Regions from separate parts of the Homo sapiens genome. Here regions 2 and 3 are each linked to region 1. The links come from fine-mapping of genetic effects on gene expression. A gene starts in region 1. Each other region holds a variant in brackets. All regions are shown on one strand. Distances are from middle to middle. Region 1 holds the start of GRIN2C (glutamate ionotropic receptor NMDA type subunit 2C). Region 2 overlaps MYO15B (myosin XVB). Region 3 overlaps SLC38A12 (solute carrier family 38 member 12).

Region 1 (8,221 bases):
TGTGGCCTCAGCTAGTAGCAGCTCTTCCGCAGCAGGGTGCAACAGCACTGACTTGTTCAGAGCTCAGGGGTACCGGAAAACCCAAGCTGGTGAGCTGGGGTTTGGTCTTGTTACACATGAGCTGGTGAGCTGGCCTCTCGGGCCATCACTGGCGTGCAGGATCTTTTGAACCCAACCCAGGGGCCTGACACGTATCCTTGCTAAATGTCATTATTTTGGATTGGGACCAAGAGCCACAGCAGTGAGGGTAACACAAAGCCTGAGTGGAGTGGTGCCCACGGATGTCACTCTCCCTCCCAGCTGGCCATCGGCCATGGCACTGCCATCTCTCCCATCTTCATCACATCCCCAGCAAAACTTCTGAGCAGGGAAGAGCTAAAGGGTGGACAGGGTGAGCCTGCCACTCCAGCCCTCCCGCCTCCCCCAGGATCTGCACATCTCTGCTACAGAAATGCTCACGAAAATCAAGCAGTTGCCAGAAACCACGCCTCCGAAAGACAGATGCCCTTCAGGGATGGGGCCCGAGACAACTGCTGGGCAGGCTCCAGCTTTCTCACAGGGCCTTCCTTTTGCCTGCCACCAAATTTCTCTCTCTCTCTTTTTTTTTTTTTTTGAGACAGAGTCTTGCTCTGTCACCCAGACTGGAGTGCAGTGGTGCGATCTCGGCTCACTGCAAGCTCCACCTCCCGGGTTCATGCCATCCTCCTGCCTCGGCCTCCCAAGTAGCTGGGACTACAGGCGCCCACCACCATGCCCGGCTAATTTTTTGTATTTTTTAGTACAGATAGGGTTTCACCGTGTTAGCCAGGATGGTCTCGATCTCCTGACCTCATGATCTGCCCACCTCGGCCTCCCAAAGTGCTGGGATTACAGGCGTCAGCCACCACACCCAGCTATCTCTCTCTTTTTTTTTAATCCAAAGCCTAATGTCTTACAGACATATGGGCCTTCTTGTATCTCTAGTTCTCTCTAAGGAATCCAGAGAGCGGGGAAGTGCAAGAGGCTACCAGGAACATTCAGGAAAGTTCCTCTTCTCCCCAGGGTGGCACTGAAAGGATCCCTCCAGGGAACCCACTAAACCAACTTTAGTGTAGAAACATCAATTGGCCCGTGTGTGCTGAGCCCCTTCCCTGCAGCAGGCGCTGGATGGTGGAATGTCCCTATGGGTGAGACATGGTCCCTGCCCTCCAGGAACTTAGAGTCAAATCTGCAGAATGAGCATGCTGCTGTTAGCACCTCCAACCTCCTTTTTTCTAAATATATTTCTCTTTCCAACCTTCTCTCCCTACTTCCCTCAAACTCCCCAGCCTCCCCGTCAAGATCTTCTCTTAGCTAAGCATCTAGAGCTCATTCACAGGAAGGTATGAGGGACTGATCATAGCTGAAAGGGTTCTCATTCCCAAGAGAGATGTAGTTTAACCACAATCAGAGCCTTAAGCTAAAGTGCCAGGTGGTAGAATTTCAGGCCAAGAAGACAAGAGTTTTGGCAAGGAAGGGAATATTGCTCTCATGGTGGCGCCCTTGAAATCTTCCCATGTGTACGGTTCCCTAGTACAGTGACACAGAAGTGACAGAAGTGACAGAACTGACAGCCCAGAGACATGTTTGAGTCTGGCAAGGGATCGATCCTAGCCATGCCATGCCATGCCTCAGCTGCCACCACCAATCAGGGATGTCAGATCTCAACCACAAAGGACACTGACATGCTTGTCGCTCCCCTTGCACGGCCTCTGTCTGCTCACCTCTGCCCACACCTCCAGGTCCTAGAGGTTCCTTGCCCTCTGGGGAGCCCCAAACCTCCTACTACCCCTGCCTCCCAGTAATGAGCTCTAGATCTGTGCTGCCCAGTATAGGAGCCGCCAGTCATACACGACTATTGGGTACCAGAAACATCTCTCACCCAAACGGAGTTTGCTATCAGTGTAAAATTTCATGCCACACTGCACATTGAAGACAACAGGGAAAAAGAATGTAAAAAATCTCGTAAACACTTGTATCTTGATTACATGTTGAAATAATAACATTTGGGGTATGTTTAGTCAAAGAAAATATACTATTAAAATTAACGTCACCTGTTTCTATTTGTTTTAATGTGGTTACTAGAAAATTTTAAATTGTACTTGTGGCTCCCATTTTATTTCTTTGGACAGTGTGACCCTGGATGAAGGGCCCAGGCTCTCCCTCAACTGCAAAGGGGCAGAATAAGCAGTCTGCCATTAGCATCTCCAACCTCCTTTTTCTAAATGTATTTCTCTTTCCAACTCCCTACTCCCCTCAAGCTTCCACCCTCCCCAGTCAAGACCTTTTCTTAGCCAAGGACCTAGAGCTCATTCACATGAAGGAATAAGGGTCTGGTAATAGCTGAAAATGTTCTCATTCCCACTCTCTCCAATAGGAAGACATCCTCATGGGCTGGGGACACCAGAGACTCTCTCCAAAGGGAAGGTGTCCTGCTGGGTTGGGGGTTGGGGGTCGGGGGGTGGGGGAGTTGAGGCAGGTTGTACCTCTAATCAAGGGGCCTAAAATGGGGGAGGGATCCCAGAATACCTCCAGAGCCAGGGGCCAAAACTAGGTAAGTCCCTGGGCTCCAAATAGCAAGGGGCAGACTCAAGGAGCTTCCGAATTCTGTCTCATCACCCCGTCTAACCCAGCCACCCTACAGAGGTAGGAGGGACAAACTCCACTTTCCCCCGCCACAATCTCCTCCCTTGCCTCCCCCTCCCCACCTCCCACCTACCCACCCCCGCCAGCCCCACTGCACTGCTGAAGCCTTCCTCCAGCCACTGCTCCCTCCTCACACAGGACAGCTACACCCTGGTGCCCACAAATGAAGTCCAGACAGCTTAGTCCCATAGACAGAGCCCTCTGCACCCTGACCGCAACCAACCGTCCTCCCATCCCTGGAACCCACAGCTCTGCCAGTCTGCTGGCCAAACAGCCCCATTCTGCCCTCATCTCCAGGCCTCGTTCCAGCATCCCCCAGGCTGGAATGTCCTCATCCCAACAGAAGTCTACTCTCCTTCAGGGCCCAGCTGAAATCCCTCTCCCACAGGCACCTGCCTTGATGCCTCAGGCTCTAGGCGCAGGGACTGCGGCCAGGCTGGGGCACCTGCCCTTCTTCCCCCTGCCCTGGCTTCCCCTCCTGGGTGGGGAGCTCTGTGTAGTGGTCCCCTCCACCCCTCCATTCTGCCCTGCGGCAGGTGTGTGTGCACTCATTAACACCCTGCCCCACACTGGACTGCGGGCTCCTTGAGGGCAGACACATTGTCTCAGAGACCTCTGCCCACCCACCCACTCAGGGTCTCACCCCTTCCACAAACAGCCCTTAAACTAATGTTTGACAAACACAGAGATCCCCAAAGAGCCCCAGAGAGGATGGCAGTGGTCAGTCCTGCAGGACACAGCAGCATCTAGAAGGGTCTGAGCACCTTCCCAGGCTGGGGGCCTTCTCCTTCCCGGGTCCTCACAGCTCAGCCAGACCCCCTGGCACGGACCTGCACACACATGCACACTCCCGCACTCATACCCGCTCACATCTGAGATACCGATGGCTCTCCCTCTCCCAGGCTAGGAAACTCTGTCGCAGGAGTCCTCCCCACCCACCAGCAGAACCCCCGGACCCCCTGCCCTTCCGGTGAGCCGCCCCTCCTTTGCCGTCGGGTTTCCCTCCCTCCCTTTTGCCCAGCCAAAACCCGAACCCAGGCGCCAGGGGAGAGGACCGCCGTTCTAGCTTGCCCCACTGCTGGGGGCACGGAGTTCTTGCTCCTCCAAGGCTACGGCCCCCGTCTCCGCGGACCCCGCCCGGACTCCCCCTGGCCACCGGGACGCCCCGCCCCCTCCCCTCCGCAGCAATCTCTTACACTCGGGCTGTGAAGTTCGGGGTATTTTTAGGCCGGCGATAAATAATTCATAGGGAACGTGGCATCAGGCTCCCCCCGCGGGAGGAGGGGGCGCGAGCAGCGAGAGCCACCGTCACCCGCGGCTCAAGGACACTCGCGATGCGGCGGCGGCGGCGGCGGCGGCGGCTCCGGGCGGGGACCCGCGCCACGCCTCCTGGCGGCCAAGCTGAGCACCACGCACCCGGCGCCCCCCGCCCCACGCTGCCCCCCGCCGGCGTCCGCGGCTCCGGGGCCCCCACCCCCACTCCCCCAAGCTGGGTCGTGACCCCGAGTCCCGCAGTGGGGGGACCAAGCCAGCCTGGCAGGCGGCCCCAGTACCATCCCAGGCCCGCCCGGGGGCCCTGGGCGAACCCAGGTGTCCCGGACCTGCCTACCTGCCCCTGGCACGCTCTTATTCTTCGGGAGTTTAGAAACAGGCTCAAAGTCACTAGCACCGCCAAGACCTGGACGGGCTCTGAAATACAGCCAGCGGAATGGTACCCTCCCCAAATAAGTGTCTTTCCTCGATTTTCCTGTGGCCCGGGGTCAGGGACTGAACTAAGATAACGCCACCATCCGAGGGCTGGGGGACCGAGCCAGAAGTCCCCTTGGACGACCAGGGCTGGGAAACCGAGTGGACGAATGGGGTGGGCATCAGGGCCTGGCGGGAATTCCCGTCTTGCTCACCCAGCAGCTCCTTGCAGGGTCGCGGGACGCACCTGGGGGTTCAGGTTGCCGGGTGCCTTTGCTCCGCGTGTCCCCGCCCTGCCCGCGTAGGCAGGAAACAGGAGACTCGGGGCTTCCCCTCCCCGCCGTCGGGGATCCTGGGCGAAGCCCCCAGAGACCGGCGCAGGCGGCTGGTGCGCAGCCAGGGCCCAGCGCCAGGTCTTGCTCGCCCAGTGCCCTCTCTGCCTACCCTTCCCTTTGCGCTCTGGAAGCCCGGGAGCCGGGCACGGGCCAGCATCTGCAAGATGCCACTACTCTGGAAGCCCACTCCGATTCTCCCAGGTCGCAGGAAGGAGAGAGCTAGGCTGGGGCAAAGGAGATGGGGCAGAGCTGGAAGGGGAAGAAGCGGGACTCGCGGCGGGGGAAGGGGTCTGGGCGCCGAGGCGAGTGCGCAGCAGGTGCCCAGCAGACCTAGGGAAACTGGGGCACTGGGCTGGGGAGCCGCACAGCCCCCTTTCACCTTCTCGACTCCTTTCCAACCCCTCGCTCTGGTGGATCCCAGCCCCGGCCCCCACTCCCGGCCCTGTTCCCCGCTCTCCGCCCCGGCGGCTTCCAGCAGCAACAGTTTGGGTCCGCGGCAGCCCAGACTCCCCTGGTCCCGCGGTGCTGCCGCGCCAAGCGAAGGAGGAGGAGGGCTCGGCGACCCTGGGGACGAACGTCTTGGACGCTTCGCCCGCGTCCTTCTCTCGCGTCCGCCGCGCGCCTGTCTGCTCGGCCTCTTCTTCGCCTTCTCTCCGGCCGCCCGGGTCAAAACCCAAGGCCAGGTTCTTGAGGGTCCGGGTCCTCCAGCCGCCCCCTCCTTGAGCCCCGAGAGTCCTGCGTGGGTCCAACCCCCCGGGTGTCCCGCCTCTGTCTCCGCCGTCCTTGCTCGCGCGCCGCGGGAACCCAGCCCCAAGTTGGCGGCGAAGTTGGTGCCCCTCGCCCGCCGCTCGCCACTTACCGAGGGGAAGGGGCGCTGCGCCCGCGACGAGAGCCCGCGCCGGCCGCCTCCCTCGCGGTGTCTGTCCCAGAGCCTCGGCCCCGGAGGGCTGGCGCGCTCAGTCTCAGCTCCGCGGGCGCCGGAGCCCGGGCGCGGCGGGGCGGGGGCGGGGGCGGGTGGCGCGGCCTGGTCCGCTGGCCCCGACCCGCCCCTGCGCCCCGCGACCCTCCCGAAGCTCGCACGGCGCCCGGCTCCGTCCCGGGCTGGGCTGCGCACCGCGCCTCCTGCTCCCAGAGCTCGCAGCCGACTGTGCGGGAGCTCTCACCGCCGCCCGCGAGGGCCCGCCCCGCCGGGGCCCGCCACCTCCGCCCCGGCCCGGCCCGGCCCGCTGCCCCTCGAGGCCCCTCCCGCCGCATTCCCGGGCCCCTCTCCCCTCTCCGGAACCGCGTCCCCAGACCTGACACTCGGGGCAAGTGCGCCTCGGAGGACACACCAGCCTGCCCGGAGCCTGGGTTTGAGCCCGCAGCTCACGAGTGTGTGACCTTGGGCCAATTTCGAGGACCCCTCAGGTTATACAGCGAGGCAGCATCTTGAGGGCTGCCATAAAAGGGAGTGACCACTCTCTGGACACTGCAAAGCCCTAGGGAGACTGAGGCACTATTTTTAAAGGCCAGTGTGTCTGACTGGAAACGGAAGCAGGAAGGCTTTGAGAGCCAAAGAATGGGCCCCAGGCTAGACTCGCCTGGGGCACCCAGAGGTACAGGGGACAAGCTGCTTCTCAGTCCCCCGCTCCCATTTCTTTTCTGTTTTGATTGTACTGAGGGCTCCCCAGGGAGGGGTGGTCCCGGTCCCGGTCCCGGGCAGCCCTAGTGTGGACAGAAGACAGGCAACCCGCAGCCACAGCAGGGCCGAGCGGAGAAAGGAAGGGTGGCTATGCCAGGCCTGGCTGCCGAGCCCCATCAAGCCCCCAATGAGGCCCCTGAGCAGGGAGCCGTCTCTGCAGCGCCACCTGGTGATGGTAGGGGAGCTACGGCCAGAAGGTGACCCCCGACCCCAACCCTTCCAAAAAAAGTCCCCCATCAACCATGGCTCTTGGTTGCAGCTGTTTTATTTCCAGCATGTTCCCAACCTGGTGACCCTCCACAGTCCAGCAGTAGAGAGATGGGTAAGGGGTTAGATCGGCCCACACCTCCACCTGTCCCTAAGGTTACCTCAGTTGCTGAAAGCTAAAACCTTGCGCGCAAGGGCGACCTTCCCCAGGAGGGAGGAGAGACGCTGGAAGAGCAGCCAAGCCTCCAAGCCAGGGCCGGCCGGGATCAGCAGAGGTGCAAAGTCCCACTCAGACGGACCCAGCCCTTCCCCTCCCAACACTCATCCCTTCCCTGCTGGGGGCCGGGGCTGGGGCTGGGCTCAGTGGCCCAGGAGGCGCAGCATCTCCTGAGGATCCACCAGCTTCTCCCTGGGCTTCCCCGTGCCCTGGCCCCGGGCCACCTCCTCGGCATCCAGCTTCTCCCAGTCTGAGAAAGAGACTGGCCGGACCCCTGAAGCAGAGGGGAGATTGTCAACACCTCCTCCTTCACCCCTCCCAGAACAGCCCCCTCCCAAAGAGTGAGGCCCAGAGAAGGACCACCCACCCCACCTCCCAGGACCTCAGCATCGGGGCCCAGACCTCGGCTGCTGAGCAGGGCCTGGATGGCTGCGTAGCCAGGCCTGGGGCCAGAGGGGAGCAACCCAGCCTTCAGGTCCTGCAGCAGCATCTGGCCGGTGAGGAAGCTGTCAGTCATGGTTGTGGCTATGACACCTGTAGGTCCTCTCTTCACCCAGCCGCTGCAGTAGAGGCCTGAGAGGGGGTAACAAAAGGGGAAGGGAGGGAGGTGGCTGGATACCACCCTGGCCATCCTGTGCCCACAATCTACACCCACGTGCACGCACACAGACACCCCACGCCTCTTGGCAGACTGTCGGCTGAGCCTGCTGTGGCCGCTGGTCCACTGCCCTGGATTCTTCTCTCCCTGTTTTTACCAGGCCGACCCCCTTACACCTCAGTTTCCCTGTAGATGAGGGGATCCCTAAGCTTAGGAGCTGAGGCTTGCTCCCCTGCAGTTTCAGTAGGCCCTTGGTAAATGTTTACCAAGTGAATTAATCACTAGATAGGTATGTGGGCACTTAGTAAAACTGGAAGCTCCCTGAGGACACAGGCTGCCTTATTAATCTCCAATCCCAGCACTAAGCACAGGGCCTAACCCAGAAAAGACCTCAGTAAACGTTTGTTGAATGACTTAATGACCCGACGTATGTCACATATGTCCTAGCCAGACTGGAACTTCTCTCAGGGCCAAGAGGAGGGCGGCACTGGGTCCTAGAGAGGGCCTGCCCTGCAGAAGCTTCTCAGTACATGTTGCTAGATGAATGAACGCATGGCCCCAGGAGATACCAGCTTCTCGGCCTCTCACCATAATTCAGCACCCAGCCTCCTCACACCCTCTCACCTGGCACATCCATAACCCGGCCCTCCACATTGGGGATGACCCCAAGCTTGGAGTCAAAGGGCACGCTTGGGTCGACAGGGCGGCTCTTATACCCAATGCTGCTGAGCACCAGCCCACAAGGGAGGTCTTCCATGTCTCCCGTGGGCACTGCACGGGTGGCCTCATCGACACCCTGTTGGGGAGAGTGTGGGCAACACCAGGCGGGTGGC
Region 2 (8,000 bases), 740 kb after region 1:
GGCAGCAGCCTGGAGCCCTGTGCATGAGGATGCGGGACTCTGATAGCCAACCTGCTATTTAGTAGGGAAAGTCGCCTTCCAAGCCACAGGATGGCCGTGACAAGAGGCCCAAAGGCTCGCAGGAGTGCTGCAGCAGAGGGCAGGGGTGTGGGCAGCTAGAGGGACCTGTGGCTGGGCAGGGCTGAGGTAGCCCGTGTGCTGTGCCGGATCCTTTAGACTTGACCCTGTTGGCTACACAGCATCAGCCCTGGGTATTACTCATCCCTGCGCCCTGGCCAGAATGAAGGAAGCCTCTGGGGTGGGGGGAGGGCACAGCCCCATGTGCCCACCTCACTGCCACATGCCCCCAGGCCCTGCGGGTGAATGGCCTGGAGCAACTGTGCAACAACCTCGCCAGCGAGCGCCTACAGCTCTTCTCCAGCCAGATGCTGCTGGCCCAGGAGGAGGTAAGAGGATTGGGCGTGGACGTGGCAGGGGCCGCTCAGGCATTGCCCAGGCAGAGGCCATCCTTGGTGAAGGAAAGTTGGGAACTGAGAGCTCTGCCTGGAAGGCCCCTTTCCATGAGGTGTCTCAGTCTTCTGAGCCTCAATGTACTATTCTATAAGATGGGAGGGTTATCCCTGCTCCTGCAAAATGGCCAAATGCCGGCTGTTCCCAGGAGGAGTGTCGGCGGGAGTTGCTGTCCTGGGTGCCTGTCCCTCAGCCTCCGAGGGAGTCCTGCCTAGACCTCCTGGTAGATCAGCCCCACAGCCTCCTGAGTATCCTGGACGCCCAGACATGGCTGTCCCAGGTAAGGGCCAGGATGGTGACCCCCCACCCAGTGTCGGGAAGGAGTGGAGGCCCTGGGTGTCCAGGCTGTAGCTGGCAGAGCCTCCCAGAGGGGACAAGGTTATGGGATCCAGCGACCCTGATCACAGTTCCTCAGCACAGCCTGGGACAGCAGCAGCGAAGGGGAAGAACCCTGGGCTCCCGCAGAGCTGGGTTCACATCTTGTCTCGGGGTGATCTTGAGCATGACATCTGGCCTCTGAGGTTCCTCACGTACCTGCCACAGAAGGGGGACAGTAGTGCCCGATGGGCAAGGTGGCGGGGACTGCACGAGGCTCATGAAGGGCTTCTGCAGGTCCCTCACAATTGTGGCTAGGTGGCCACTGAGGCCTCTGACTGGTCGGGGACAAACCCCAGGGTACCATGTCCCCCATTCCACAAATGCTTTCTGACTGCCTCCTGCCTGCTCAGACTTAAATAGCAGCCTCGTCCCTGTTTCCCGTTTCAGCGCGCGTCCACATGCAGTCACAGCGTCTATTCATTCACTGACTCCTTACCGCGCCAGACTGGGCTCCACAAGGGCGGGTGCCCGTGTGAAGGGTTTGAGCTCTATCTGCAGCACGTGTTAAGGAAATAATGAATGAATGAATAACTGTGCCAGGAACTGTGCTAAGGATAAAAGGTGAACAAAATTAGACCCAGTCTCTCCCCTCTTACAGCCCGCAGTGCAGCAGGAGAGAAATGTTCATTTAAAAAAACAGGCCTTGGCCAAGCTCAGTGGCTCACGCCTGTAATCCCAGAACTTTGGGAGGCCAAGGTGGGTGGATCCCTTGAGCCCAGGAGCTCGAGACCAACATGAAAAAACCCTGTCTCTACAGAAAATACAACAATTAGCCTGGTGTGGTGGTGTGAGCCTATAGTTAGAGCTACTTGGGAGGCTGAGGTGGATGGATTGCTTGAGCCCAGGACGTCAAGGATGCAGTGAGCCATGATCATGCCACTGCACTCCAGCCTGGGTGACAGAGTGAGAAGTTGTTTCAAACTAATTAATTATAAAAAAACAAACCAAAAACGCAGAGCCAAATACAAAATCACCCCTGTGCGGCTCCGTGGGTGGGCGTGTGGGGCAGGGAGAGTTGGGGGGCGTCATGAGCCTCTAGGAGCTGAGGCTGGAATGTGGAGCAGGAGTTTCTGTGGAAGCTCAATATAACGTGATCCTGAATATGGGGCAACCCTCCCCCATTTTCCCAATTAGTGGTTGAGAATGAAAGGTGAGCCAGGCATGGGAGGCTGAGGCAGGAGAATCGCTTGAACCCAGGAGGCGGAGGTTGCAGTGAGCCGAGATCGTGCCACTACACTCCAGCCTGGGGACAGAGCAAGACTCCGTCTCAAAAAAAAGAAAAGAAAAGAAAAGAAAATGGGCCAGGCGCGGTGGCTCACGCCTGTAATCCCAGCACTTTGGGAGGCCAAGGTGGACAGATCTCGAGGTCAGCAGATCGAGACCATCCTGGCTAACATGGTGAAACCCGGTCTCTACTAAAAATACAAAAAATTAGCCGGGCGTGATAGTGGGCGCCTGTAGTCCCAGCTACTGGGGAGGCTGAGGCAGGAGAATGGCGTGAGCCTGGGCGACAGAGCGAGACTCCATCTCAAAAAAAAAAAAAAAAAAAGAAAATGAAAGGTGAAAAACAATGGTAAAATCATCAAATGTTATTGTAATAGTTCGTTGATCACTGTCATATTAATGCAATACATGTCTTCATGTACTATATATTGATATATAACAAGTCACATTAATATATGATATATAATGTTCATTTATTAATACTTATACGTATGTAAAGTCTTGTACTAGATAATTAAGAGAGTGTTAATTTCTAAACGATTGTTTCTCCCAGTTCACATTTCATAATGTTTTGTTAAAACTTGTCACGAGTGTCTTTGAGGTCCCAAGATCACTTTTGGAATCCCCCAGCATGGATTTCCAGGGCTCAGCAATATCACTTAGGTCTATGTTATGTGACATGTACCATTTTCTGAGTCCGAGGTGGGTGCTGAGCCTGGAATTGTTACCCCAAACCCAAGTTCTCATTTACATAATATAGGCAAGTTCCCCCATGCACTTGCTATTTTATGTTCATTAGCTCAGTAAAATAACGTCCAACTAAATTACTTTTTAGTTTTATTTTTATATTTTAAAAAATAGAGATGGGGTCTCCCTATGTTGCCCAGGCTGGTCTCAACCTCCTGGGCTCAAGCAATCCTCCCACCGTTGCCTCTCAAAGTGCTGGGATTACAGGTGTGAGCTACTGCACCTGTCCTTGAGTTACTGTGTGTGTTTGTGTATGTGTGTTTTAACTGACTCCTACTATCATTCCCAACTGAGTTACTTTTTGAAAGTGATTTTTTTTTTTTTTTGAGACAGAGTCTCGCTGTTGCCCAGGTTGGAGTGCAGTGGCGTGATCTTGGCCCACTGCAAGCTCCGCCTCGCGGGTTGACGCCATTCTACTGCCTCAGCCTTCCAAGTAGCTGGGACTACAGGCACCCGCCACCATGCTTGGCTAATTTTTTTTTCTTTTTTTTTGTATTTTTAGTAGAGACGGGGTTTCACCATGTTAGCCAGGATGGTTGATCTCCTGATCTTGTGAGCCACCCACCTCAGCCTCCCAAAGTGCTGGGATTACAGGCACAAGCCACCGCACCTGGCCTGAAAGTGATCTTTGAAAGACTTGGTTAAAAGCACATGTAGGCCGGGCGCGGTGGCTCATCTCTGTAATCCCAGAACTTTGGGAGGCTGAGGCGGGCAGATCACGAGGTCAGGAGATCGAGACCACAGTGTAAACCCTGTCTCTACTAAAAATACAAAAAATGAGTCGAGCGTGGTGGCGGGTGCCTGTAGTCCCAGCTACTCGGGAGGCTGAGGCAGGAGAATGGCATGAACCCGGGAGGTGGAGGTTGCAGTGAGCCGAGATCGTGCCACTGCACTCCAGCCTGGGTGACAGAGCAAGACTCGTCTCAAAATAATAATAATAATAATAATAATAATGAAATAAATAAATACAAGCGCATGTGATTCTGGGACTATTCTCCCAGGAATGGTTGCTAAATCTGTACTAAAGCTCCTCATCTCTATTTCTTTTTTTTTCTTTTTTCTTTTTTTTTTTTGAGACAGAGCCTTGCTCTGTCGCCCAGGCTGGAGTGCAGTGGCGTGATCTCAGCTCACTGCTGCAAACTCCGCCTCTCGGGTTCACGCCATTCTCCTGCCTCAGCCTCCCGAGTAGCTGGGACCGCAGGTGCCCGCCACCATGCCCGGCTAATTTTTTGTATTTTTTAGTAAAGACGGGGTTTCACCATGTTAGCCAGGATGGTCTCGATCTCCTGACCTCGTGATCCACCTGCTTCGGCCTCCCAAAGTGCTGGGATTACAGGCGTGAGCCACCGCGTCCGGCCTAAGAGTGATCTTTGAAAGAC[C/G]TGTTTAAAAGCACATGTGATTGTGGGACCATTCTCCCAGGAATGATTGCTAAATCTGTACTAAAGTGCCCCATCCCCATTTCTTTTTTTTTTTTTGTTTAAGTACTTACTTATTTTAGAAATGGGGTCTCACTCTCTCACGCAGGCTGGAGTGCAGTGACACCATCATAGCTTACTGCAGCCTCAAGCTCCCAGTCTCAATCAGTCCTTCCACCCAGCTAATGTTACTTTTTTCTTTTCTTTTTTTTTTTTTTTGAGACGGAGTTTGGTTCTTGTTGCCCAGGCTGGAGTGCAATGGTGCGGTCTCGGCTCACTGCAACCTCCACCTCCCAGGTTCAAATGATTCTCCTGCTTCAGCTTCCTGAGTAGCTGGGATTACAGGCATGAGTCACCATGCCCAGCTAATTTTTTTGTATTTTTAGTAGAGACAGGGTTTCACTATGTTGGCCAGGCTGGTCTTGAACTCCTGACCTCAGGTGATCCACCTGCCTTGGCCTCAAAGCGCTGCGGTTACAGGCATGAGCCACTGCGCCTAGCCCCACCCAGCTAATTTTTAATTTTTTTTTTTTTTTTTGAGATGGAGTCTCGCACTGTCACCCAGGCTGTAGTGCAATGGTGCCATCGTGGCTCACTGCAACCTCCGCCTCCTGGGTTCAAGTGATTCTCCTGCCTCAGCCTCCTGAGTAGCTGAGATTACAGGCACCTGCCACCACGCCCAGCTAATTTTTTGTATTTTTAGTAGAGTTGGGATTTCACTATGTTGGCCAGGCTGGTCTCGAACTCCTGACCTTGTGATCTGCCTGTCTCGGCCTCCCAAAGTGCTGAGATTACATGCGTGAGCCACCGCGCCCAGCCCAATTTTTAAATTTTTTGTAGAGATGGGATCTCACTAGGTTGCCCAGGCTGATCTCGAACTCCTATCCTCAAACGATCCGACCACCTCGGCCTCCCAAAGCGCTTGTTTTGGGGAACAAAGCCAAACCTACCCTTATAGTCAGTGTAGGCAGTACTCGTGCTCACCGGGAGAGGGCGCCATCCAGAAGGACAGCCTGTGCAGAGGCGTGAAGGGAGCTCATGGCTCCTCTCCTAGGCCACGGACCACACCTTCCTCCAGAAGAGCCACTATCACCATGGTGACCACCCCAGCTATGCCAAGCCCCGGCTGCCCCTGCCCGTGTTCACCGTGCGACATTATGCAGGGACTGTCACCTACCAGGTACCTGGCCTCAGGGACAGACCAGGGTGAATCAGCGAGGGCAGTGTCCCCTCCCAAGCTGAGTCACCCGACAGCGGAGAGGAGTGGGTGTGGGGAGGCCCCTTGCAAGGCTTGGACACCTGTCCCTACCTGAGCCATGGGCCCTGCCCAGTTCTGAGCACGGTTTACTGAGTTCTAGGTGACAATTATGGGGTCAGGGAGTGGAAGCCTTGGGACCCTCCAGACAAGTGGGCAGAGCACAAGCATGGGACCTGATGACCTTGGCAGTTTACTTCGCCTTCTGAGCCTCCGTTTCCTCACCTGTAAAATGGGTATGGAGACCTAAGCTCTGGCGTTGCTGTGAGGGTGAGATGTAGTAACGTGGAGATGGCCTGGCAGGTGCCTGGCACATAGTAGGTGCTCACTGAATGGACTTCCCTTCCCCCTTCCGAGTTCTATGCCTACCAAGAAGCTGCACGCGTGCCTACCCCAGGAGGAGAGGAACTGGGGGTGGGGGAGCGGGGGCTGGAATAAAGGGAAGGGCAGTAGGGAGAATCAGTTCTCCCTGGAGGAGATGGCACACTTTGCTTGGAGAAGAAAAACTACAAACTACCCAGGAGTTGCCCCCAAAAAAGAAATACAAGGAGTTCAAGAAAGCTAGGAAAATGTAAATCAAAATAGATTTAATATGGAGAGACAGACAACATTCTTGTCTAGTCAACCTATTGACTAGCATAGGTTAAAGCCCCAGTGGGGAGAGTGTGGTCTTGCTGGGGACTGGACCTGTCCATGGGGTGGAATGGAAAGTCCAGTGGCAGACCCAAGGCTAGGTAAAGGGCTGGAAACACCAAGGCAGCCTTTCAGGTCACCTGGGGAGAGGGTAGATTCTTCTCCTCCATATCCAGCCTCCCCTCCTTGGTTCCTGTTCTCCTCCCTTTCTCCACTTCCCTCCCCACCTGCATGGTCTCTTGCAGGTTCACAAGTTTTTAAACAGAAACCGGGATCAGCTGGACCCTGCTGTGGTGGAGATGCTTGGCCAGAGCCAGCTCCAGGTGCCCATCTGCCCTTCCAGGCCCCCACCCGCTCCATACTCTGTCCCCCAATTCTGTCCTTTTCCCCCTGGGCGCTCTTGCCCAAGGGTTGGCCCTCAAGTCCCTGGCACCTTGGGCCATGGGCTGAGCTTGCCAGGGTCTGGATGCCGAGGGCTGGTCCATTCTGGCTCTCCCGGGCTGCAGGGTGGATGGGCACGCCCCAGCGGCCAGCTGACTCAGCCCTTCACCCCCACAGCTGGTGGGCAGCCTGTTCCAGGAGGCAGAGCCCCAGTCCAGGGGAGGGCGAGGCAGACCCACGCTGGCCTCTCGCTTCCAGCAGGCCCTGGAGGACCTCATAGCCCGGCTGGGCAGGTAAGAACAGCGCCCGCCACACCAGACCCCAGGGAGTTGTATGGGGCTCCAGTCTGTGCCCGAGTGACCCCTCTTTCCCTCATCAGGAGCCATGTCTATTTCATCCAGTGCCTCACCCCTAACCCTGGAAAGGTGAGCTCCCCAGCAACTGGCCTCAGGGCCCTCCCCCTCCCTGCACCTCCCTCCCCACAGCTCTAGGCCCCTTGACTCCAGCTGTCTTTGGCTCTGTCTTGTGGCCACAGCTTCCAGGCCTCTTTGACGTGGGACATGTGACAGAGCAACTGCACCAGGCAGCCATACTGGAGGCCGTGGGCACCCGCAGTGCCAACTTCCCCGTGCGTGTGCCCTTTGAGGCCTTCCTGGCCAGGTGGGGCCCAGCACCTCGGGGCAGGACTGACAAGGAGGCCACCGGGAGTGACTGGCAGCCCCGGGGGTCCTTCTGATTGGAGATGGACTCACTCTGCCCAGGACTGGGCCTAGCACCCAACCCTCCCTCTCTCTCCTCGTCCTCTCATCCTCTCTCTCTCTCTCTTTCTCTCTCCATCTCACTCTCTTCTACCATTCACCATCCCTCCACGCATTCGTCATTTCTTCTCCTCTCTGCAAACCTCTCCTGTGCTGATGCCTGGGCACCAGAGATGAGGTGGGAGCAGTACCTGCCCTAGGCGGGGCTCACGGTCTAGTGCCCACAGCAGCTGTCCAGGGAGTGCAGGCTGAAGCAGTGAGATGGCAGGGGGGACGGAGTGAGAAAAGAGCCTCTCAGAAGGGCAGGAGGGGCGGGGAGGGGCGGGGTGGCACATGGAGCTGCCAGGAACCCCAGAGGCAGCTCTGTTCCCAGAGTTCAGAAACCTCCAAGAAAAGCTGGTGGCATTGTCCGTTTTGTTGTTTGCCTATCTGGCCTTTGGCTATTGACTGGATGGCATCTTGGGAATCCTCTGAAGGGCTGGAGTTTACCCCAAGCACAGGGACAGAGGGAGCAGGTGGAGTCACTTCTCGTTGATGTCCAGCTGAGCTGGGCTGGTGGCTGCCTCAGAAGGGAGGGGGCAGCTACTAGGAGCAGCAGCCTCACCCCAGGGCTCTGTGGACCTCCTTAGCCTGTGATGGCCTTGGCAATGGGGATGGCCTGGTTGGGGGACTGAGCAAAAGGCAGGCAGTAGGGATGGG
Region 3 (8,259 bases), 47 kb before region 1:
GCACTCTGGTAGTGCCTGGCAGTGCCAGTCCACTTGCTGGTTCTGAGCCTCGTCTTCCCTGCCCCGGGGCAGAGCCTTCTCTGGAATGACAGACATCAGTCTCAGGTGTCTCGGGAAGCTTGGAGAGCTTGGGAAGGGCTCCAGGTAGAGAAGGGTGTCATGTTCAGGGGCTGAGCTCTTGCCACCAGCATCCCCTCAGTGTGAGCTTAATACCAGCTCCCAGCTAGAAGCTTGGAGACAACAGGCGGGGTATTACCAGGTGTGTGGACTCATCCTGGTTCCAAAGGTGGGTGGAGTTTGCTGCCTGGGGGCCACAGCGTGTGTTCTGGGCAGACACAGGCTCCCTCCTGCAGCGGCCACAGTGCATGGACAGTTTTCTGGCAGGTCAAAGCCAGGCTGCGCATCCGGTGCTGCAGGAGCCCCCAGTGGGTCATGGCATTAGGTTCCCTCCCAGGTGGCACCTTCCCCCACATGCCTCCCACGCACGGGCTCCTATGAGCCGCACTCTGCCTGATAGGAAGTTTCTGACGTTCCTTTTTCACCATCAAGGGGTTAGGGAGAAGATGCTCATTTTGTTGCCTCCCAGAGCTCCGGTAAAGATAGGTTACAAACCTCAGGTCCCTAACTAAGAAATTGAGCATGTCATTTACGTAGGGGTACGGGGTATTCAGAGGAGGTGGTTCAGAAAAGGAAGTATATGGGTTTTTCTTGGCTCTGTTTCCACTTGCCTTGAAAAGGGGGAAGCAGAGGTTTGAGGAAGGGACCTGGGGAGGTTTTCGGCTGTCAAACATTCAAAGACGGTCCTTCAGCCAGTGTTTGGGGAGTAACAGCAAACCCAAGAACTGCCTTCCAGACGCCTCTGGTTGTCTCCTCACTGACAGGGCTGAGCCTCAGAGCAGCCTCCCCCAGGCTCCTCAGGAGTCGTGAGCGGTGCCACAGTGGCTCTGGACTGTCCCTCCCGTGCTGTCCAGCTCTCCCTGTCTTTCTCGGAGCCCGCACAGGGGAGTCCAGGCAGCTCTCGTCCCATGCAGCCTGCGTCACAGCTGCCATGGGATGGCCAGACTCCTGGAGCGGGTGCTGCTTCGGTTCTGTGCGGGAAGCTCTCACGCAGCCCCTTCATGCCGCCTCTTTCCCAGCCACAGGCTAACATCGCATCCTGGGAGGTGGTGTTCTGGACCTGCAATAGCTCAGGCAGGCGGTGGACCAGGGCTGCTTGAGAGCCCTGGCCCCCCAGGTCCAAGGGGGCAACGTTGCATAAAAGAGAGCATCCATCCACCTTTCCCCTGGTTTCTTTCTCCCTGAAATCATTCTTCCAGGTTCCCCAGCATCAGAGTCGAATAACATTTTCACAAGTATCTGAGCAGAGGTAGCGCAGGTGCCCCACTGTTGGCCAGTCTGTACCTGTACCGAGAATGTGCCCAGAGTTCATCTTTATCTCCGCTAGCTGGGCGAAGGGACGGGTCTTTCCTCCCGACCAGCCCCTGGTTGCTGAGCTCCTGCTGCGAGGATTTGGTTTCTTTCCTCTGCTTTCTAGCTTGGTGGCCGCTTTGGAACACGCTGCTGGGACCTTCACTTTTGGCTCATGATTGCCTCTGCCTGGAGGCTCAGTGTCCTCCCGTCTTTGAGAAGAGCTGTAGATCTTCCGTCTCTCCACTCACGCATTCAGAACGAGGCTGCCAGCTTGGCGTGAGCAGCCATGGTTTTTTACTGAAGATAATGGTGACCTAGTGACAAGGTGCATAGAGCTGGCCTCTAATGCACAGGGGGCACCCACTTCTTTAGAGTCATCTAGGCATCAACCGTCAGTTCTGTCTTCGGTCATCATGTGAATCTTTCAAACTTGGAGTCTATTCAGTAGGCATCTCCCAAGGACCTTCTAGTTGAGGGGTTTGGGAAGATCAGGGGGAGCCAAGGACAAAGGGCCATGCTAACTTGTTCAAAAAGTGCGTTATGGCAGGTGTTGGGCTAACACTAATCACTGCTGCAGAGAGGGACGTGCACTGAGGGAGGCAGCCAGCCTCCGCCTGTCCTCATCTCTCACTCTGCACCAGGTACACAGTATTTGAGAATTGGTGGGGGCAAGATTGGCACTGTCTGTCATGCTTGCGTTGGTGTCTAGAACCCGACAGCCTGTCCTGGCACAAATCCCATCCCCTCCCAGTCTCTGGGTCAGCCCATTCCTGGGCTGGTCTTCAGGAGGGGCGCTGCTCACCCTCTGCCCTGTCGAGAACATTTTAGGAAGCTCATCCTTATATAGTTCCTTGTGAAAGTGCAATCATCCGCAGAATTCGGACGACCTCCTCTAGATGGCATGGTGCCTCTCATCACAGAGTTTTGGCAAATAAGCTGTGACAGTGGTTCATGGGATTTGGTGCACACAGGCTGCCGGCATGGTTTCTGACACGGCTCCTGCTCTCTTTCTCTGGCAGACGTCTTCCGCATGGTGAATGATCCTTTGTGTTTGGTCGGGAAGAACTTGGACTGTCTTAAAGAGCATTTGTACTGTAGTTGAACTTGAGTGGAGGTCATGGAAGTCAAATAAGAATAGTACTGGGGCTGGGCACCGTGGCTTACGCCTGGAATCCTAGCACTTTGGGAGGCCAAGGAAGGCAGATTGCTTGAGCTCAGGAGTTTGAAACCAGCCTGGGCAATATGGTAAGACCCTGTCTCTACAAAAAATACAAAAATTAGCGAGGCGTGGTGGCACACGCCTGTAGTCTCAGCTATTCAAGAGGCTGAGGTGGGAGGATTGCTTGAGCCTGGGAGGTCAAGGCTGCAGTGAATCATGATCACACTACTGCACTCCAGCCTGGGCAACAGAGCGAGACCTTGTCTGAAGAAACCAAAAAAAAACAAACAAAAAAATGCATTTGGACCATAGTTGAACTTGGGTGGACCTCATGGAAGTCAAATAAGAATAGTAGAATAGTACTGGGGGCCAGGCTGGCCAGGCATGGTGGCTCAGGCCTGTAATTCCAGCATTTTGGGAGGCCAAGGCAGGCAGATCACTTGAGGTCAGGAGTTCATGACCAGCCTGGCCAACATGGTGAAATCTCATCTCTACTAAAAATACAAAAATTAGCAAAGCGTGGTGGCATATGCCTGTAGCCCCAGCTACCTGGGAGGCTGAGGCAGGACAATCACTTGAGCCTGGGAGGTGGAGGTTGCCGCGAGCCAAGATCACACCACTGCACTTTAGCCTGGGCAGCAGAGTGAGACTATCTCAAAAAAAGAAAAAAGAAAAGAATAGTATTGGGGCTAGGCATGGTGGCTCACGCCTGTAATCCTAGCACTTTGGGAGGCCAAGGCAGGAGGATCACTTGAGGCCAGGAGTTTGAGACCAGCCTGGACAATATAGTGAGACCCCCATCTCTGCAAAAAAAATAATAATAATAATAATTAATTAGCAGAATGTGGTGGCATGCATTTGTAGTCGTAGCTACTCAGGAGGCTTAGGCGGGCAGATCGCTTGAGCCTAGGAGTT[C/G]GGGGCTGCAGTGAGCTATGATCGCACCACTGCACTCCAGCCTGGGTGACAGTGCCTCAAAAAAAAAAAAATAGCATTGACTTAACATTCTTTGGTTGGAGCTCCTTGCTTGGCTTCAGGAGTGCTGCGTTCCCCCACCGAGATGTTTGGACAGGAGTGATGACTTGGTGTGTGCTGACACAGGGGGTCAGGAAGCCACGCTCATGTCTGTTGAGTGTCTTCTGTGCACACGCAGCATGCTTTGAGGGGTTCAGGAACTTGAAAGCTCTCGCAGTTAGAAGGGACATCAGGATGCAAATCCTGCCCTAGCCACGTGACCCTGAAGCCTGTGGTCCTTCAGCTGACCCACACTGCCTCAGAACTCACCTTCGTGTGGGTGAATCCCCAGATACTGTAATTCAAGTTGAGAAAATAAAAACTTCCAAACCAAAACGTTCACAGCCACTTGAGAAATAAAAATAGAATCCTTGAACGTTTCTTCACTACACTTCAAGGACGTGTTGAAAGTTCACTTCCCATTTAGGGACGGGCTCATGCTGAGTTGCCATTAACCCCAATTAACTCTTAACCCCTTGTGCCCACCAAGAGCAGCCCTGGAGTCTGGGGGATCCTTTCTTTTATCGCTTGAAATAACCTCCAGGATCAGGGAGCTCGGCTGTGCGATTTGTGCGCTCCGCCTCCACCCAGATGAGCCCCCCTGCGCCCTCCTCACTCCAAGCCCGAGTGCTCCGTGGTCAGCTCCCACAGGTCTCTGTGCGTTTAAGGTAGCCCTATTCAACCTTTCAAGGCTTGCTGCTGTACGAGAAGTGCCTCTGTCACCCCTGCTACCTTAACAGAGAAATCCCCATCAGCCCCCAGCCCTGGAGTGAGAAGGCTCAGAGTGGACCTGCTGGCCTCCCGTGTTGAAACTCCGGGAGCTGACAGCTGGAGTGAAGAGAAGGCTGCTGGTGCCTGAATTCTTGGCTCTAGAAACTCCATCTCACTACAGCGTGGAAGCCAAAACCAAAAAAGCTTCATATTTTTAGAGGGAAAGAAATAAGCACACACTTAGAGAACTGCCCACATAGTAACCAACCAGTCCACTGCCTCAGTAGTGTTCATGGGAGCCAGCGGGTCACAGTGTCACTCCCCTGCCCCGCCCCACTTCAGTTCCAAGCCTTCTTGCCACTCCAGGATGAGAACAAAAGCGTCGCCTGCGTGCTTCCCTGGTCACTGCTGGCCGCTTTGGCCACTGGCATTTGTCTCCATGGGACATTGCCCGCTTTTCAAGTCTCAGTCAGGAGGCAGGGCTGGGAGGGACCCTCCCCTGGGCATCACCAGTCAGCTGACAGCTGCCCTTCCAAGTGTTTTCTCTGTCACTTGGTGCAAAGGGTAATTGTGTGTCACTCTTTGTCCCATGGGTTAGTTTTGGCGTGGAGTTGCACAGAAAGTTCTTAGGACTTGTCCTTTGTTGCAGCCCTCACTTCAGCCCCTCATTCTCCTGTCTCCCCTTTCTTGTGGGTTTTTTGTTTTGTTTTGTTTTGTTTTTTTGAGACAGGGTCTCGCTCTGTCACCCAGGCTGGAATGCAATGGCGCAATCTCAGCTTACCACAACCTCACTACAACCTCTGCCTCCCGGGTTCAAGCCGTTCTCCTGCCTCAGCCTCCTCAGTAGCTGGGATTACAGGCACCCGCCACCACGCCTGGCTAATTTTTGTATTTTTAGTAGAGACGGGGTTTTGCCATGTTGGCCAGGCTAGTCTTGAACTCCTGACCTCAGGTGATCTGCCCGCCTTGGCCTCCCAAAGTGCTGGGATTACAGGTGTGAGCCACCATGCCTGGCCTCCTGTCTCCCCTTTCTACCAGGGAAGTAGCCCCTCTGTCTTCCTTCCCCTTTTTTGAGGGAACTGAGATGGAACTATGAGTGTTGTTGAATTTCATCAAAGTCTTAGTTCCAGTTGGAAGCTGCAGTCCGCTCCGTCTCCTTCCAGCCAGAGGAAGGATGACGACCAGCAGCACTTGGGTTTTTAGTTTTGTCTTGTAAGCATTTTGGTGGGTGGCGGTGGGTGACTATTAGGGACACTGACTCCACTGTCTCCAGAAAGTAGGGATGAAAAGGATCACTCCTTTCAAGACCTTGAGCTTCTTCACTTTAGGTGAAGATGTCTTCTAAGACACCACCCCTCTGGGAGCCAAGCAGACTGAGAGTGGTCACAGTTCACCAGAGTCTGATCCCCTTCTTTGTGGGGACCTTGGAGATGCTGGTGATGGCGGGAAGCCGGGCATCCCAGGCCCCCTTCCTGTGGGGATCTTGGAGATGCTGGGGAGCCAGGCACCCCAGGCCCCCTTCCTGTGGGGATCTTGGAGATGCCGATGATGGTGGGGAGCCGGGCACCCCAGGCCCCCTTCCTGTGGGGATCTTGGAGATGCTGGTGATAGTGGGGAGTCGGGCACCCCAGGCTCTTCCCGGGTGCACTCTCTTCTTCATGGAGGGAGGAATATCATTCTCCCTGAAGCCAGTGGGTAAACTCAGAGCCATGCTGTTTTGATTTGATGTGTGTTTCCTAAAATCATAACATGTCAATTCCTCAGCTGCGTTGGGAAGAGTTATTCCCTGACTATGTGCTGTTTTTAGGCAGAGCAGGTGACTCTTGCCCACATGCTGCTGGCTTTGCCAAGTCAGGCACTGCCCCCCGCAGGAGGCATGGAAAACGTGTACAAGGCAGGTTGGCAAGACTGGGGCTGCCCCTTCACCCACTCTAGCAGGCACTCCCCCCACCAAATGCAGTGCATCCTACAAAGCTTTTGTGAGCATCCCACGTTTGAGAGCCTTCCTAGGTGCTGCGACAAACAAGGATGCAGTCCTTGCCCTCAAGGGGGTTACACTCTGCTGGGGACACAAAATCAACCCAAGAGAAAGCAGCGGTTCAGAGCCTACTGGAATGAAGTCAGGTGGTATCAACTGTGTGTTGGTAATTCAGTCAAGAGCCCCCAGGGAGGATTAAAATAACTTGTAGAGGAGATTGGCACTTGAGCAGGGCTCAGAAGGTCACAGGGGAAGATTCTTTGCCAGCAGGAGGGTGAAGGCATGAGGTTGAAAATTTGAGGACGGGGTGTCAGAGAGGGGGACCTTCTCCCTCTGCCGCTTTCTGGCTGTGTCACTGAACCTCTCCAGCCCCCCAGTTTCCTCATCAGTAAGATGAGGGCATCGTCACCTGCACCAGTGACCTTGCAGCGGGCCATGAGCATGAAATGAAACCATGTGTGTTAGCGCTTGGCAGAGTGTGGAGGGGCTGCAGCTTGGGCAGTGATGTTATCACAGGGCAGTTTTGATAGCACAGGGCAGGGCGGATCAAAGGACCAGTGGCTGGGACAATGCGGCCTTGGGATTGGCTGTGACAGATCTGCAGGCAGAGGGTGGGACCCGGAGACTGTACAAGGTGTTAAACAGGGTATTTAATTTGAGATTGGCACCAAGTTTAAAATTTCATTTTGTTTCTCTGACCAGCTAAATGTGCAGAGAAATTTGGGGATGGGGAGATAAGTATCTACCCGCTTTACTTTTGTGCTCTAATGTTGACGCCCTCACTCACACGCTCCGTGGTGCGGTTAAAGGACATAACACATTGCCAGTCCTGGGCTCCTTTTGCATATGACACAGAAGCACGCAGAGTCGGAGCCTTTCTTCTGTAAGTGCCATGTGCTGTAGGGTTAGAACTGGAGAGGAGGGAGGCAGGTGGTGGACACGGCACAGCCTCAGCAGGCGTGAGTTGAGCGTTCTTGGTTTAAAGATCCATTCTCGGAAGTAGCACAGCATTTGTTTCTCCCATTCCATGGCTGGGCAGCTGACTCTTCAGTCTGTTCCAAACCACTCCAAGAGGAAAGTGGAGGCTCCAGTTAGTGACTGAGCCCTTGGTACCCAGATGCCAGGCTGCTCAAACAGGCACAAGTGTCAGTACTTCCGGGTCCTCAGCAAAGCCACGTCCTGTCCAGGAAATCTCCAGGCACAGCCCACAACAGGCCCCCGTGAGGCTGCAGGGTCCCTTCCCCACATCTTCGAGTCACTGATTCTGAAGAGTAGATTTCCTTCCTGTCCAGAGGACAGAAGGCTGGGCTTGAGATTAGGCACTCTCTTTACTCCCTACTGTGCTTAAATCTCATTTCTGGTGGCATCTAGAGAAACGGCTCCTCCCTGTCAGCCCCATCCTTAATGCATGCGTAGGACTGGGCTCTGTCCTGTTGGGGGTGCTATTGGGAGCCTTGCCTTGCAAGAGGGCACTTCTGGCCTGGGAGAGAACACACATCTGTGGTTTGAAGCCCCCCAGTTTGTGGTCATCTGTGATAGCAGCCCCAGGAACCTCATGTAGAGAGCAAGGAAAGAGTCAGAGATTGCTGGAAGTCTGGAGCCTGGGCAACTGGAGGTGGGCAGCGCATGTAAGGGACACAGGAGGACAGGCAGCCCTGTTGAGCTGTAGACTGCAGAACGTTCTAAAAGAGCTGTGGCTGAGCATTGCCTGCAGTGCCCTGGGAATGTTAGCCTCCTTGTCTCCATCAAGACTTCAGCAAGGCTGCTGTGGGGCCCCTGGTGTTATCTAAACTCACTGACCCAAAAAGAAAGAGGATCTGAACAGACCCATTTGTACTCTCCTGGGTCCGTCCCGGACTTTATTCCCCATGACCAGTTTGAAGATGTTATTAGAAATCAGAGTTTTCTTTTTTCGTTTTTTTTTGTTTTTTTTTAGAAATGTGCTTGGCTGCAGCGACTCGTGTCTCTGCCTCCTGTAATGAGTTGGGCT

What was found. PIP is the estimated chance that this variant, and not a neighbour inherited with it, causes the effect.
Region 2: its variant is fine-mapped to the expression of GRIN2C in esophagus muscle (GTEx, PIP 0.96).
Region 3: its variant is fine-mapped to the expression of GRIN2C in sigmoid colon (GTEx, PIP above 0.99). The same link has a PIP of 0.9 or more in esophagus muscle and tibial nerve.

Annotation. Positions count from the first base shown.
Region 1 is chr17:74,855,884-74,864,104 of GRCh38, forward strand. It overlaps GRIN2C (glutamate ionotropic receptor NMDA type subunit 2C), which reads right to left and starts at 4,002. Exons shown (of 13, transcript NM_000835.6): 1 at 3,861-4,002. It overlaps FDXR (ferredoxin reductase), which reads right to left. Exons shown (of 12, transcript NM_024417.5): 10 at 8,013-8,184; 11 at 7,193-7,363; 12 at 6,614-7,064. The coding sequence ends at 6,934. RefSeq lists an enhancer at 4,829-5,527.
Region 2 is chr17:75,596,110-75,604,109 of GRCh38, forward strand. It overlaps MYO15B (myosin XVB), which reads left to right. Exons shown (of 64, transcript NM_001395058.1): 13 at 351-446; 14 at 659-790; 15 at 5,329-5,454; 16 at 6,408-6,485; 17 at 6,721-6,836; 18 at 6,923-6,968; 19 at 7,079-7,203. Among named protein-coding and RNA genes, the nearest start is that of MYO15B, 12 kb to the left of the region's middle. The variant C/G (reference allele first, on the strand shown) is at 4,239.
Region 3 is chr17:74,808,494-74,816,752 of GRCh38, forward strand. All of the region lies in intron 8 of SLC38A12 (solute carrier family 38 member 12), which reads left to right. Among named protein-coding and RNA genes, the nearest start is that of SLC38A12, 36 kb to the left of the region's middle. RefSeq lists an enhancer at 3,705-4,420. The variant C/G (reference allele first, on the strand shown) is at 3,485.